Linked DNA regions of Homo sapiens: region 1 is linked to region 2. The links come from fine-mapping of genetic effects on gene expression. Tissue or cell type: esophagus muscle. Region 2 holds a variant in brackets; the other region holds the start of a gene. All regions are shown on one strand. Distances are between the middles of the regions.

Region 1 (8,103 bases), 52 kb after region 2:
ATTTTGTAAACGCTTATGCTCCACCAGACATCCAGCGCATCTACTGGATGCCCAGCGTCTACACCAGACGCCCAGCGTCCCGAGTGGGGTTCACTTTGTCTCTTCACACCCAGGGACTCTCAGCCTGAGGTGAGGGAAAGGAAGGGGGGTTATTAAGAATTCTGACAAGGTAGGCTGAATAAATTGTGTTTTCTTTGTGAGCCTTAATCCGGTGTTGTATTGGCTTCTGGACATGGCTAATTTATTTGGAATTTCATTCTGTTCCTGACAGCGTCCTTGACTAGCTGTTTGATCACCCCGAGCAAAGTTACATACCAGCTTTCAACCGTTGGGAGGGCAGCGGCGTCCTTTTTCTCAAGTGCCTTCTCCTGGGTCGGGCTTTATGCCTGCAGCAGGGCGTTTCAAACGGCTGAGGCCATCCCTTGTTAGGGAGAGAAACCTCCCGGGCAGGGGTCTCCCTCAATGAGGAAGCCCTCCACTTCCCCCCACTCGTCCCACTGTTCGTGATTTTAATCTGCTTTTGTGGCGCAGGAAGAAAGAAAATTAATTTTCGCCCGTCTGTGTGTAGGGAGCATTTCAGTGGAAACCCGGTTTGAAATGCATGTTCTGTTGATTTCGGCAGCCTGCGCCGGCTGGGGTTTTGAGATGCAGCATTCTCAGGGGAAGAGGTGATGGGCCACAGGCCTTCGTGGGGTGGGAACTCAGGCTCCCCGTGGGCCCTGGACGGGGTCCTCATGTCCTGTGCTCCGTCTTGGCAGGAGTAAGAGTTGATGATGTTCATGCTCTCCCAACTCACCCATCTCTGCCATGGTTGCTTTTTTTTTTTTTTTTGGTTAAAGCAAGCATATTTTGCTGTTGCAAAAAGAAACAAAGAAAAAAATGATTTTCAACAGGACCCTGACATGTCTGAGAATGTCTCACTGTCAACAAGGCTGTAGGTGGTGGTTTTACAATTTTGGCGGAATCTGTTCTAAGGAAAACACGTGCTTCTTTTAATTTGGCCTCCCAGCTCCAATGCACGTGGCCGTCCTTGCTGAGAGTCTTCTGGGTGCCTGGAACTGTGCTAAGTCCTGGGGGATTCGGCGAGAGCTCGAGTTCTAGAAACACATGGAAGAGTTCAGAGGATGTTGGTGCTATGAAAATAACAAAACCAACCAACACACTGAGGCCCTGGGGGATGTGCCTGGTGGTCCCTGGGGGAGGGCGTTCAGTATTATTCCTGGGTCCTGCATTTGAGTCAGCCAAGTCCAGCTCATCTCGATGACATTTGGGCGGGGATTTCCCCTGCAAAGCACTCTTATCCCCAGCCTTGCTTGCAGAAGCTGGGAAGGGATTATCATCCCCTCACCGTTTTTTTTTTTTTTTTTTTTTTTTGAGATAAGGTGTTGCCCAGGCTGGAGTACAGTAGCTTGATCATGGCTCACTGCAACCTCTGCCTCCCAGGTTCAAGTGATCCTCCTGCCTCAGCCTCCTAGCTAGGTGGGACAACGAGTGTGCACCACCACATCCAGCTAATTTTTGTATTTTTTTTTTTTTTGTAGAGATGGGGTTTTGTCATGTTGCCCAGGTTGGCCTCGAACTCCTGAACCTTCTCACGTCGGCCTCCCAAAGTGCTAGGATTATTTTCCCCTTTTATTGAGGGGAGGAAACTGAGGCCCAGTGATGCTTCAGTGGAGACCAGCTTGCCTGGGGCTCACAGGAAGCTGTTCACAAGGTTCTTGGGGCTCTGTCCCAGGCTGTCACCTGTACTGAGGGCTGGTCCTGGGCGGGGACCAGGCTTTGGGGGCAAGAACTTGCACCTCCTTGTTACTTCCACTCCAGGCCTTCCCCACGGAGCTCACCTGTGGAGAGGTTTCCTCTGCCAAGCATTTCATCAGGAAACAGTGAGTGAGGGTGCGTCACTCACTGCTCTGTCAGCGTTGAACATTTGGGTGCAGGAAGATGCCTTGGCTCTTTGAGGTCCCGATGGCAACTTGCATCCCCAGATCCATCCTCAGAGGCCCGGGGCTGGGAGCATCCCCGGATCCATCCTCAGAGGCCCGGGGCTGGGAGCATCCCCGGATCCATCCTCAGAGGCCCGGGGCTGGGAGCCACCACCGCCCAGCTCCATGCGTTCCCATTGGCGGGGTCTGGGTCTGCGCTGATGAGGCGCTCGTCACTCTTATCCTGGATTATATTCACAGGCGGGTAACTCGGGGGGTGGTGTGATGGGGAGACACAGGAGGGAGGAGCAGGGAGGGCAAGATGAAGGGGAGCAGTCTGGGAAGGGGGCGACTCCAGGCACAGCCGCACGTCCCTGGGATTTTCAGGGGGAGCTCTGGGGGTTCAGAGTGGCCTCTAGTTTGTCCTGGTCCAAAGCAGGGAAGCTGGGCTACGTCCTGCCCAGGTCAGCCTTAGGTTAAGGGCTGCCTGGGGGAGGGAACTTCCTGGGCCTTCGGGTCTCTGTGCACTGGGGTGGCTCCTGTGGCCCAGAATGCCCTGGAGAAGGGTCCTACTGGAAGCGAAGGTGCAGGGCAGCAGGGCCTGAGGCGCAGGAGCTGGTGGAGGCTCCCAGCACAGGTCGCCGCCCCAGTCACATCACTGCTGATGGTGGGGGGACTTGGGGAGTTTCCCCCGAGAATGGGAGGTCTCACAGTCCCCGTGCTGCAATGCTGTCGGTGCACTGTGTCTGCAACGTGCTCATGGTCACTTGCTTTTTCTCTGTGGCCCCGGCCGCTTTATCCAGCAAGTAGCCCCCTCTCCTCTCCGGAGAAGCCGAGCCTGGATGCCGCTGGGAGGAGGTCACTCCCTTCCTGTCTCGAAGGGCATGCCGTCCTCGTCCTTGCTGACTCCCAGAGGCCCAGGGACGTCTGAGGGGGAGGGGCCGGGCCTCCTTGACCCCTGCGTGTGGACACCATGTGACTGGGGTGTGGTTGACTCTCTGTGTCCGATTGGGTGCTTGGCAAACACAGAGAGTTTTGTCCAAGGCCACCTTGGTCCCCACCTGTCCAGGTTGGGAGGTGCCCTGCCTGGTGTGGCCTGAGCTGAGCGCCTCTGGCCGGAGCAGACGGCCCCGGCTCCCCCAGGACATGTCACCTGGAGAGGTGGCCCTTTCAGGTAAGGGACATGCCCATTGGCAGCAGCCTCTGCCCCCTCCCTGCATACACAGCTGCTCCCATCTGGGGACCCTCACCCCACGTGCGGATGGGCTTCCCCAGGAAGTCGGCAGGACTTTCCCTGGCCTTCTGGAAGTCCCCATCAAGCAAATGCTCTATCGATGACTTACTCTATGACGGGGTCCAGAGAGCTAACTCCCCACCCACGTTCGAAGTGATCTTCAAACCGCTGCGCGTGGAAAACAAGCCCAGAGCTCAACGTTCCCTAAGTGAGTGGCCTTTGACAGCAGTGCCAGGCAGCCCAGTGGGTGCAGGGCACACCACAGATGGAGGAAGGGCCAGGCATGCTTCCCAGACAGCCTCTGCCAGTCCAGGCAGGGGCTCCAGGGTGGCTGCGGGAAGGCAGCTTAGGCGGTGCCCGGCCCAAGGTGAGTTGGCATCATGCTCCACTTCCCGTTTGAACGTGTGGTCCCGTTTGAACCTTCTGGAAAGGCTTGGCAGGGAGGACACTCATTTTGTAGACTGGGAAGGAACTGAAGAGCTGGCTTCCGGCGACCAGCGATGGGCCCCAGATCCCTGTGGCCAGGAAGGCCCCCATTGCTGTTCTCTGTAGCTCAGGCTGGACATTTGCTGGTGAGAACTGGCCGGACTCCCAGGACCCAGCCGCCAGAGACCTCTGTTCCTCACGCTCAGCCCCCTAGCTCCAACTGGGGCCCCTTTGCTTTACAGGATGTAGGCTTGGAGTTAGAGGGGGCAGTTCTGGCGGTTTATCTCTCACTCACAGAAACTCGGCTGTGAGAGGCCAGAGCTGGACTTGGGGGGCAGAGCCTGTAGAGGTCAATGTGTCCTTATTGGGTGTGCACACGTGTGAGTCTGTGTGCACACACATGTATACATGTGTATGCGTGTGTGTGTGTGTGTGTGCGCGCGTGTGGCAGTCAGAGAAGGCTGGGCAGACACTGTTATTTCAGAAAAGATGTGGAGGCCTTTCTGAAGGCATCCACTGAGAGGCAGGGGCCAGGATCTCTGTGCCCAGGCGCTGGGCGTGGCCCCTGAGAAGTGCTCTCTCCCCTAATCCTTCAAAGCAGGAGGTATTTGCTTCACTTTCTAAGGCAGGATCTGCGGCTCTGAGAGGTTGCACAACTTGCCCGAGGTCACTCAGCTAGTAGAAGGCAGGACTGGCCTCCGGTCCAGGGTGACTGTGAGGATGTCAGGGGACCCTGCAGGCCTGTGCGCCCCAGCTTAGGGCTACAGGTCCCACCTAAGGCTTCTTGATGGAGGTTGGAGGGGCGAGCTGGAGGGAGGTGCTGCTGGGGGTCCACCGGTCCCCTTCCTGGGGGATGAAGCCGGTTTCCCGCGCTGACCCCCTTGCCATCAGAGGCCCAGAGCGCGGTCCTTGTGCTGCTGAGCTGTGTTTGGGGCCGCCTGTGGGCTGTGGCCGCCTGTCCTCATCTTCTCCCCTTTTCTCCTTGGCTTTTCATCCTCAGGCTCCGTCCTTCTTCCCCGTGGTGGCCCCAGCCTCCCTGCCAAGCTTCCCGGCCCCCGCCCCATCCCGGGCCTGCTGCTGCGGAGACCGTGGGCCGGCGCTGGACGGCGCGGCCTCCAGAAGTGATAGCTAATTGGGGAGAGAAAGGGCCCAATTGTCTGGCGGGGCCGGAAGAGCCGCGTGGGCTGCTGAAAGCGTCGGGAGGAGGTGGCCGCTTCGCCCAGCAGCTGCCGCCGGGGATGTTTGCAGATTACGTCAGCGCTGGCGAGCAGGGGGCGCGGGGACAGCGAGGGGGGCGGGCTCCCGGCGGCCTCCCGCCCCCCAGGCCCCTGGACAATGCTGTCATTGTCAGCACGGAGAGTGGTTAATTCTGGATGAATGGTACACGGGCCTCTTGACCAAGGAGGCTGCTCGTCGTCCCCAGTCTGTCCTCTCACATGCCAGGGAGGCCCCGGGCTGGAGTCTGGCGGGCAGATCTGGCCTGCTTGGTGGCACCAGAGAGAACAGGGCGGTCCCTTGGGGGCGCCGGCTGCAGAGGCCCCAGGCTGGACGGAGCTTCCTGTCCTGGGTCTGCACAGCAGCCACTTGGCAGTGCCGGGCTAGGGTGGCAGGGCCCCACTGCATCTCGGTTCCAGGGCAGAGGCTGCTGCTGCCCTTTGGGGCTGACTTCAGGCATGACCTCCTGGCCAGGTGGCAGCTTTGGCCCTGACCCGCTCCTGGCCCTGCTGGTGGTGATCCTGCTAGCACGCCTCATCCTGTGGTCCTGCCTCGGGACCTACATCGACTACAGACTGGCCCAGCGGCGGCCCCAGAAACCCAAGCAGGACTAAGCCTCTGCAGGCTGCGGCCTCCACGCGCCCTGTCCCGAGACTCAGCCGGCCCTTCCAGTGGTGGTGGGAGGGAGGGGAGCAGGGCAGGCGCATGATCCCCATGTCCCACCCCTGGGGCAGGAGCTCAGAGAGGCCTGAGATGGATCGTGCCTTCCCAGACTGACCAGGGCTGTCCCGTAGAGGCAGCTGGCCATGTGGGGAGATGGAGGGGCCGGCCTTGCAGGTCCATCACCAGGTTCTGGGGTCCCCGGTTGCAGGGAGTGGTCCTGGGGGTGGGTCTTGCTTTAAGACCTTCTCTGCCTCCAATTCCTTATAAATATGCCTGCAGGAAGAGCTGGGTAAGCCAGAGGACTCAGGTGGAGGTGCCACAGAGACAAATGTGACCTCATCACAAGCTGGCCCTGTTACCAAAGGCCACGTCCTGTCTCAGCTCACCACCCTCATAACTAGTCTCCTCCTGCCTCCCAAGGGACGAGATAAGTGCCGATGGCTGTCCTGATTTCTCCAGAGCAGACCCCTGGGAAGGGTCTCAGGACGCACTTGTGAGGCTGAGTTGACAAGCCAGACGCACTTGGCTCTGGTTGACCCTCTGCACACTCTCTAACGGTCTGAACAGTTAGGGCACAATGATCCCTGCCTCCCTCCCTCAGCAGGATATCATGTAGGGGACAATTTAGGGGACAAGCCAAGGCACCCATCAATGCCCTCTGTTCATCTGTTCCTGCAAGTGTGTGGCTGGGAAGTGCCCAGGAAGGCTGACAGGGCAGGGAAGTTGATTTGAGGCCAAGCATCCAGTGCTCCTGCTCCACCTCCGTAGCACGTTAGCCGTGATGCCAGTGACTTAACCCACAGCTTGGGGAAGCTCAAAGGCTCCACATTCGAGCCTCTTGGGGGAAATTCGGCAAACACCCATGTCCAAGTTCCACACTGTATTTCCTGGGATCGTTCCAGCAGATCGTGGATTGCAGCGAGGGCTGCTGACTGCATGCGGAACTGTGAGATGGAAGGGACTGTGGGCGGCAGCTCCAGGGAGGAGCATCGAACCAGATATCGTCTCTGGGAGGCTGGGCCTGGTGATGTGGCAACGTCTTGCTCCCTGAGAGGTGATGGGTATGCTAGGGATGCTCGCTCAGGGAACGTGGGCCAAGTCCTCTGAACACGAAGCTCGCAGAGGGGGTGATTCCTGTGAATTCTGAAAGGACTTGGGGGCGTCCAGCAAGAGCAGGAGCTTAGATGGTGGTTCCAGGGCTGGTGTTGCTGACTGGGACGAGTGGACCCCCAGGGTGGGCATGGAGTGGGGCACTGGCTGGGAGCCTCTGCCTTGCTGTGTCCTGGCTGAATGAACCCAGGTGAGGACCAGAAACGCTGTTATCACTGTTTCTGCGGCACCCGATACACTCACCTATGCCAAGGAAATTTTTTTTTTTTTTTTGGTTTCTACAGGACTTGCTGTGCTCAGATCCTCCATTCAAGAGAGCTACAGACACGGGGGTGCTGGTGAGCAGGAGCCGAGACCATCTGGGGTGGGACCGACCAAGAGTTTGAGGTGTCCAGGGGGTGACGTGAAGATGACCTATTGCAGAGGGTCCCTTCTCATTCACGCTCTGAAGTCTGCACAGGGGCAGGGGCTACCGTGCTCCATTTCAGTTTGGCCTCTGTTGTATCAGCCAGAGGCCAGCAGAACTCTATGGTCACTCCCCCGTGTCACGGACAATTTGCCACCTCCACCGGCAGCCCAGGGCTCTGCCTGAATATTCTCGCCTGATCGTAGGATTGTGGGGAGGGATATTCTCATTGATCTCTAAGGAAAATATTGTTCGCTTTTTAAAAACATGATCTGGTACCATTTCATTGATCTCTTTAAGGAAGAAAAATCACATGGTTGTCATGAGCATGTACCGACAGAGCTAGGAGGGCCAGCTGTTCCGGGTTGCCCAGGGCTGTCTTGTTTTTAAAATGGAAAGTTCGATGTCCTGGAAAACCCCTCAGTCCTGGGCAAACCAGGTCACGCTGGATAGAAGGAGTTAGACATTCATATGATGTGCCGATGTCTTGCCAGTTGTAGAGTTTTGTGTAAACCTGTGTGTGGCCTGCGTGTCCACATGGGTGTGTAGGATGGCACCTACACACATACCTGAGGTCACCTCTTGGTCCAGTGAGCCAGAATCCTGGGACTTCATCATCTTTTTTTTTTTTTTTTTTGAGATGGAATCTCACTCTGTCACCCAGGCTGGAGGGCAGTGGCGCAATCTTGGCTCACTGCAACCTCCGCCTCTGGGGCTCAAGCAATTCTCCTGCCTCAGCCTCCCGAGTAGCTGGGATTATAGGCGTGTGCCACCACGCCCTGCTGATTTTTGTATTTTTTAGTAGAGATGGTGTTTCACTATATTGGCCAGGCTGGTCTTGAACTCCTGACCTCAAGTGATCTGCCTGCCTTGGCCTCCCGAAATGCTGGGGTTACAGGCATGAGCTACCATGCCCGGCCTCAGAATCCTGGGACTTCTGCTGGAGCCAGGGGTCAGAACAGACTCCTCTACTGGGACTGCCTGGCAGGGAGGACAGACGCTCAAGGCGGCCCCATGAGAACACAGCCACCTGGAAAAATGGTGGAAGGGAAGATTCTGCCAACCTCCTCCGACTCCCTATCTCAGTTACACTGGTCCATAATTTCTTTTCTTTTTCTTAAGTCTGT
Region 2 (8,103 bases):
GGTGCAAAGCTGCCTGCCCAAGTGGGGAGTGCTCCAGCCGCATGGGGCATCAGTCACCTTGGGTATTGCTCCAGGAGCAGGCAGTCTGGGAGACCTCAGAGGAGGCCTGCTGGCTGGTCCACTGGTTTGTCAATCACTGGCAGGGCAGAGAGTGATGAGCTGGGCTTGGAGGGGACACAGTCTTGGATATGAGCCCAGCTCTGTGGGCACAGGCACTGTGGCCCCTTCTCCACTGGCCTCAGGTTCCTGGTGTGTGAGATGAGGTGGAAGTGAGCAGAGGGGGCTCCTGGCAGGGCTGCGAGCCTCCTACCTCTGGGTCCCACATCGGTGCTGGGTCCCAATGCCCACCTTGTCTCAGGGGTGACGTCATCACCTTTTGAAGAAGCCCCAGATGGTGTTGAATAGCGATCGCCACCCCCAGTGTGCACCAGGGAAGGAGCATCGTAGACCTAGCAGATGAGGGCAGGCATGACTGAGCCCGTCCCAGCTGGGCCTGGGTACCGGAGGCTTGTAACCTACAAGATGCCCTCAGAGCATAATTTGCATACAGGTGAGGGCCTGCGACAGAGGCCCTGCATGTCCAGAGGCATGGCCAGGTAGAGTAGGTAGGCAGGCTAGACACACCTGGAGATGCTGCCCTGGGCACACGCAGTTCCTGGGTAAGCCAGCGGAGGGCAGCAGAGCCTAGCGGCAGGCGACCCAGTGCCCAGGCCCTGGTACCCTCCTTGCCTCGCTCAGCACCAGGCCTGGGAAGGCAGGGGGAGTCCCCTCCTGGCAGGAGCTCCTCCTCCTCCTGGCAGCCTTCCTGGGCCTGTGCTGGGAACCTTACAACCCTTGCCTAAGAGACCCTAGGGGAATCTGTGTGGTGGCAGTGACAACCAACACTTGTTAGATTCTAGCCAGGAGAGAGGGTAGCGTGCTTTTAGTGGGGAGAGGGTGTGATGAGGTGGGCTGCTGGCTCCCACCACCAGGCCAGCCGGCCACCTGGAGTGCAGGGTACTGATGGGGCCCTCTCTGGCTGTGGGGTTCCCGCTGGGTGGGGCTGGAGCATCCCCTGGGTCTGTCCACCTGCCAGCCACTGTGGGGACACTCAGACTCCCTTCTCCCCGGGTGGGCCACGTCAGTGCCCCCGGGCATGTGAGGTGCTCAAAAGACCCTGCGCTTCTGTGGGTATGCGACTCATTCCACCTCATTTCCCCAGAAATCCGGGTCTCCAGGAGGCTCTTGCAGTCACCCCTTGCTGGTGAGTGCGCTTAGGGAAAGGCCATTTTCAGCCTTCACTGGGGCAAAGAAAAGAGGCTCTGTGTCTGGGGATGCAGTGGGCCACTGGTGAGGGGGGTCACGCTTTGCAGACAGGGCCAAAGTCCCAGAAGGGGAAATAGGTTGGGAGCTGTCAGAGGCCAAGTTGGACAGCTCCACCTTTCCCCCCGCACTGCACAGCCCCTTCTCCTGGAAGTGGACAGGGCAGGGAGGACTGAGAGGGGAAACTGAGGCCCAGACATCCAGGCAATTGCTGAGGTCACCCCAATGTCTGTTCCTTGAGTGCAGCAGTGGCTTGGGCCCCGGGTGCCCTGCCTGTCCATCAGCTCTGCCCACGCCCCCTCCCTGCTTTTTCTCCTTGGCATAGCCCACCCAGCCTCTGGCACAGCCCTGGAAAAATGGTCAAGGAAAACTCTGGGTGCTGGGCCAGCATCAGAGCAGAGCCTGGGGGACCCTGGACCTCCGTCGGTGGCCACAGCGGGAACACTGTGTGGAAGTGTGCTGTGCATACTCATGCATCCTCACTTCTGACTTACAGAGGAGGGAGCTGGGGCTCAGAACATCCTGGAACACGCCTGCCCCTGAGTACACCTGGGCTGGCTGCCTCCAGAAACCAGGGTGGTGTTGGCCACTCTGACAGGCAAAAGGGATTGCATTTGTTTTGGGAACTGTCTGAGGTTAGAAGTCACCCAGTGAAGACAGGAGAACACGGGTGGGGGATATTGCCTCAGTCTGAGTGCCCAAAGGTGGCGGTATTAGCTCAGCTGTGGGGACAGGCGGTGCACAGCCTGTGCTCTGGCCAGGAGGAAGGGGTGCATCAGGGGCTCTGTGGCTGGAGGCAAGGAGACCTCTCAGTAGAGCTGGGAAGGAGGAGTGGGGGCCCTCCTCCCTTGAGAGGTGGCAGGTGGGCAACGATGGCCATGGCTGGGCTGGAGGGAAACTGCTGACCCACGTCACTCGAGCGGGACATGAGACTGGCCCAGGCAGAAGGGCCTGAGACCCCAGGACCCTCATCAAACGTTCACCGGCTCCTTGGGGTTTGATGAAGGGTTCGCAGGCCCGGCAGTGTGCCCCCTCTGGGAGGCAGTCTTGCCTGGCTCATCTACCTCTGGCATTTGTTTCAGTTGCCAAGAATGTGTTTGGCGGCGCCAGGGCCGATGGTCCCACTTTCCACCTGGCAAGTAGTCCTGCCGTATAACTGAAAGGCAGCGACTCCACATGACCATGGGGCAGGCAGGATGGCGAGCTCTGCTCCATCCTGCATGGGGGCAGTGGCCCCGGGAGGCGGACTCCGGGCTGGACGGGAGACATGGGGGAAAAGTGAATCTGGTAGAGGTTACAGAGGGGCCACCCACTTGGCTGGGGCAAGCAGGAATGCTTTCCAGAGAGGCCACACTTCCAGGCTGTGGGGACCCGAGCACAGGGGTGGCGAGTTCTGGCATTTATTATTATTATTTGTTCCAGAACAAAATTCAACTCCCATCCTCAGTTGGCCAATAATGTGGTAGGAACAGGTGGGAGCTGACCCCCAGATGCAGGGTGCTGGGTGCTGTGCTGATTTTCTGGGGCTGCTGTGCAAAGTACCACAGCCTGAGTGGCTTTAGACCATGGAGATGTGCTGTGTTGCAGTTCTGGAGGCCAGAAGTCCCAGGTGCAGGTGCCAGCAGGACTGGGCACCCTCTGAAGGCCCTAGGGAAGCGTCCCTCCTTGCTGCTCCTGGCTTTTTGCGGCTCTGGTGTTCCTTGGCTTGTGGCTGCATCGTTCCAGTCTCTGTCTCCCCCTTCATGTGTCTTCTCCCCTGTGTGTCTGTGTCCACATTTCTCTCTACTTATAAGGACACCGATTGTATTGGATTCAGGGCCTTCCCTGCTCCAGTATAACCTCAACTTATTACATCTGCAGAAACCCTATTTCCAAGTAAAGTCACATCTGAGATTCCAAGTGGATGTGAATTTTAGGAGCACCTGATTCTACCTTTCCAGGTGTTTTCTCTCTCACAAGCATTCACGAGCAGGCAGCTTTTTGATTTTTACGGTGAGGGGCGGAACCCAGCATTGCTTTGAATGGCCGCATGCTAGGCATTGGGAGGGGTGAAGGCCAGAGAGTGGGGTGCAGGTATCAGGAATGAAGGGATGGGGGCCAGGGAGGCTCTAGCATCCAGTCTTCCTTCTGATCCCAGCCTT[G/C]CCATTTGCAGCTGTTTGGTGTTTGGGCAAATTATTGGACCTGCCTGAACTTTAGTTTCCACATCTGTAAAATGGGCCCGTTATTTCTCTGCACTGCACTGGCATCAGTTGCTGGTTCTCTGTAGCGAATGGAGATGACAGAGTCGGTTTGTACAGGGCCAGGAATGGTGTCCTCAGAAATGTTCCGGGGGTGGCCCCAGCTTCTCCTCCACCCGCTGGCTGCACAGACTCCTTGTGCCTTGGGTGCCTCATCTGCAGAACGGGAATAACCACAGTTCCTGCCCTGTTGGCTTAAGGCGAGGACAGGTGGGAGATGGGCCCAAAGCCCTCCCAGGTGCCTGGCCCGGGGCCAGCCTTCGATGCAGATCAGCCTCCGTGCAAGTCAGCTCTGGGGCTCAGGCATCTGGAGATGGTCGGGGAGGCTCTTGCAGATCTTTCTTCTTTCCCCCGAGACCCTGGCTCCACTGTGAGTTTTGTTGGCATTATTGGAGGGCGGTGGGGAGTGAGTGGCGGCGAGATGGACCTGGTAGCGATGACAGTTGCCAGCCACATCTCCAAGGTGGACTTGGTCCCAGCCTGGCAGCACAGGTGAAGCTGGGAGTGGTGCGTGCAGGGCTCTCTGAGTAAGCGGCATCCCAGAGCCTTCCTCTTGGACACTGACCGATGGGACATCGGGCCACGCAGCGTCCACACGCAAGCACTTGCCACCAAGTGTGTCTGCAGCGAGAAGATGCCAGGGGCTTGTGTGGCAGTGGAGCTGTCAGCGCCCACCTGCTGGGTCGAAAGCACCTGTCTCTGCCCAGAAGGGAGGGTCCCGTGGTGGGTGAATGAAGGTTGGGTTGGTTTCACAGACCCCCGTCGTGCCCACTTTGCCTGTCTCTCTGTCTAGACTGAGGCCACGTCAGCTGGCAGGGCCTGTGAGCCCTCTGGCCTTACATTTCCTTGGTCTGGGCCTCTCTGTGTCACATGGCGAATGATCCCTGAGCAACAGTGCCACGTCCTTGGGGAGCTTCGGTTTGAAGGGGCCCCTCCATGGATCTTTTGTAACGTGAGCCATTGCCCCGTGGGTTGGGGTTTCCATGGATTGGTGGGGCACACCGCACCTGTGGTCAGCCCCCACCCCCATCTTTGAGTCTGGGTAAGACAACTCTGGCCTTGCCCGGCCCGGGGTGCCCCCACAGCTCATTCACCTGGCACAGAGAGGCAGTGAGCAAACCAAGAAAGGCACTTTTGATCTGGGGACGGCTGGCACGTTTGCCAAGAGCCCCCAGACAGCCCTGCCTGGCTCGAGCCCAAGACAGCTTCTCAAAGGGCAGTTCCTTTGAGAGAGACTGTTGGGAAACACCTTTGAAAAATGGCTTTGTGCAGCCGGCCTGGAGGGCTGTGGACCGAGCCCCAGGGCTCCTCCTTGGCCACCAGCCTGGGTCCCAGGACGCAGGGCCATATGGCAGGTTTAGAAATTAAGCCAGGCCCTGACATTCCTGTGTGCAGCTCCGGAGGCCCCCTCCCCGCCCCGTGCCTGCAGCCCACTCCCTACCTCTGCCAGCCCGGGGCTCAGCGCCTGCCCTGTGCTTGGGGTGGGGTGAGGAGCTGGGCTTCCACGCCAGCCGACTGGGAAGCTTCTCCAAGTGGTGAAACCCAAGGGAAAGCCGTGGAGTCTTTCCCCGCTGCCACCCGCCTTGGTTTAGTGATGCTCTGCTGGGCCACGTATCCTGCTCTCAGAGTTCAGAAGGGACTTAATCTATTTTTGTCCTGTTCAGCCAGGATGATTATCTTTAATAAGGCCATCTTGAACGTTTCCTTGTCAGCTCGTTTTAAGGAAATGTTTGCGCATTAAGCATTTTCCCACAGCGGTAAGACAATGTGCTGTCCCTTGCCAAAGATCACATTTGCCATCCTCGGCGTTCCTGCCTCTGGACGGTGAGCCTGGAGGCTGGCCAGCCCATTGCTGCCAGGGGCCCTCCATTGATCACTATCAGGATGTGATTGATTAATATCATGGAGGAGGAGGCCTGCGCTTGGCTGGCCCGGAGCTCCCTGCTGCCGAGGGGCTCTGTGGGCAGGGTCCATGACCACTGGCAGTGGGGAGGGGCAGCAGCGAGGTGGTGCATGGGCTCCGGCAGGTGGCCTGAGTGATGGGCTGAGCTTGGCCGTAGCCGTGTGAACCGGCCGCCCGGCCCTGCCCCCAGCTCTTTGAAGCACTTCCAGTTTGCCCAGCTGGGTACGTCCAGTGCAGCCCTTTACATTTCCAGTTTGTCCAGATCCACAAAGCAAAACCAAACTTTCCAGGTCCCCTGAGGCCTGCTGGCCCTGGCTCCCAGGCCCGGCTGCCCAGTGAGGCGCTGTGGGAAGGTGCCTCTGGGTGATTCTCTGAGCCCGTGGGCAGGGGACGGAGGGAGCTTGTCCCAGCCTCCTGTCCTTGGTGAACTGCTCCAGTGGGGACAGGCCTCCCTCCACCATCTTCCCACTCAGGGCTACCCAGAGGCCAGGCTCCCAGGGCCCAGCCCTCACCTGCTGAGTGACCAGGGCAGGGGACAGCATCTGTATCTGGCTGTGTGGGGGCCCAGCCACAGAAAGGCAGGTGGGACAGCAAATGGCAGAGTTTGGGGTTTTCAGAGGCCACAGCTTCTGGGGAGAGGAGGATCCCTGAGCATGAATGGTTGCAACAGGATGTGGGGAGGGAAGAGGAAGAACTGGTCCAGACAGAGAAGGAGTAAGGAGGGCCCAGGGCAGTGGGCAATGCTGTGTCTGCTCCATATCCAAGAGGTGGTGCTGGGGCTGATGCCTGCGGAGAGGTGGGCAGCCCAGGGACTGCCTGGCCTGCTTGAGAAGCTAATGGCTGGATGGGTAGGGCCATCCAGTGAGGGTATTTTCTAAATTGGAAAGTCCCTGATTTTTTGGGAGCTGGAGAACTTTAAAGTGGGAAGGGCCTGTGGAGAACTTAGCATCAGGTCCCCTGGTGTTGGGGAGGCTGAAACCTGGCATGGCAGGAGTGGCCCAGCCCGTGCTGCTGGGAGAGGACCAGTGGCTGCTGCACTAAGAGCTTACCTGGGGCAGGTCCACGGGTCTCTCACAGTGCAAACCCCATGGCCTGGAATGCAGTATTCATGCCAGAAACACTGAGAAAGGCTCTGCCATCCAGGGACTATGCTGTGAGGGTTTGCTGAGCACCAGGATTTTCTGAGCAGTGGGGTTTGCTAAGCACCTGGGTTTTGCTAAGCACCAGGGTTTGCTGAGCACTGGGGTTTGCTGAGCACCAGGGTTTGCTGAGCACCAGGATTTTCTAAGCAGTGGGGTTTGCTAAGCACCTGGGTTTTGCTGAGCACCAGGATTTTCTCAGCAGTGGGGTTTGCTAAGCACCTGGGTTTGCTGAGCACCAGGGTTTGCTGACTACCATACTGCCTTGGATGCCACAGTGAATGCAGGCACAGCCCCACCTGAATGTTGCTTCAGCCTCCTCTTATCCCAGCTCTGTGAGATGGGGCCCCCACACCCCAGGGTTGTCCAGAGTATCACACCTCAGGATTGTCCAGAGTATCACACCTGGTCACACCCTCCTCCTCATCTTGGGAGAAGCCTCTGTGACCCACCTGCTCATGCCCGTGTCCTGGGCTCGGTGTTGATGCTCCCACCCCACCCCATTGCAGTCATCAACAAAGTCCATTTGAACCTCCAAGCACATTTTTGGTCTGCCTCTCCTCATTCCCTCTCCCCTGTCCCAGCCCCGCCATCCAACACACCTGGAGGACTATAGTGGTCCCTGATGGTCCACCTGTTTCTCCACTGCTGACTTCTCTGCTCTGTCTTTGCACCCGCAGCAGCTATTGGATCATGTCCCTCCCCGTTGTGAAACTCAGCCATGGCCGTCCACAGCCCTCCACCCTGGTCCCCAGCCTGCGTGCACGAGCCCCTGCCCACTGTGAGCCTGCCACCCCTGCCATGTCACTGGCCAGCACTACACCTCCCAGCCTCAGGGCCTTTGTCCAGGATGTTTGGATTGGGCTGAATGATGACCCCCTTAACGTATGTCCAAATCCTAACCTAGAACCTGTGGGTGTGACCTTTTTGGAAAGAAGGGTCTTTGCAGGTGAAATTAAGGTAAGGGATGAGATCATCCTGGATTATCTGTGTGGGCTCAAAATCCAATGCCAGGTGTCTCATGAGAGAAGAGGTGAAGACACGGAGAGGAGGAGGAGGATGCACGAAGACAGAGGCAGAGACTGGAGTGATGTGGCCACAGTCAAGGAACACCTGGAGCCCCCAGGAGCTGGAAGTGTCAGGAAGGACCCTCCTCTAGCACTTTCAGAGGGAGGGCGGCCTTGCTGACACCTGGGTCTTGGGCTTCGGGTCCCCAGAACTGAGAAAATAAGTCTGTGTTGTTCTGAGCCACCCAGTTTGGGATGGTTTGTTACAGCAGCTGCAGGAGACTTGTACACATTTGTTCTGCCGACACGCTTTTCTCATTCTCACACGCCTTTCAGGTCTCAGACCCACTCCCTGGGGGAGGAGCTCCTTGGTGCCCATCCAAGCACCTGCCCCTGCCCCTTTGGGAGCCCCACCACAGTCTATGATCATGCATTTATTGATCACTTATTAACTTATTTATTGGCTAATTACACATTTGTTGACTATTGAAAATGCGAACTATGTCTGGTTTACC

Evidence for each region. PIP is the estimated chance that this variant, and not a neighbour inherited with it, causes the effect.
Region 1: SMIM38 starts here. The variant in region 2 is fine-mapped to the expression of SMIM38 in esophagus muscle (GTEx, PIP above 0.99).

What each region holds. Positions count from the first base shown.
Region 1 is chr11:69,152,592-69,160,694 of GRCh38, forward strand. It overlaps SMIM38 (small integral membrane protein 38), which reads left to right and starts at 3,344. Exons shown (of 3, transcript NM_001369201.2): 1 at 3,344-3,523; 2 at 4,583-6,760; 3 at 6,855-8,103. The coding sequence starts at 5,256. The coding sequence ends at 5,411. All of the region lies in intron 2 of LOC338694 (a long non-coding RNA gene), which reads right to left. RefSeq lists silencers at 1,170-1,464, 4,710-5,069 and an enhancer at 2,898-3,825.
Region 2 is chr11:69,100,904-69,109,006 of GRCh38, forward strand. No RefSeq gene overlaps it. Among named protein-coding and RNA genes, the nearest start is that of MIR3164, 22 kb to the left of the region's middle. RefSeq lists an enhancer at 1,242-1,742. The variant G/C (reference allele first, on the strand shown) is at 3,444.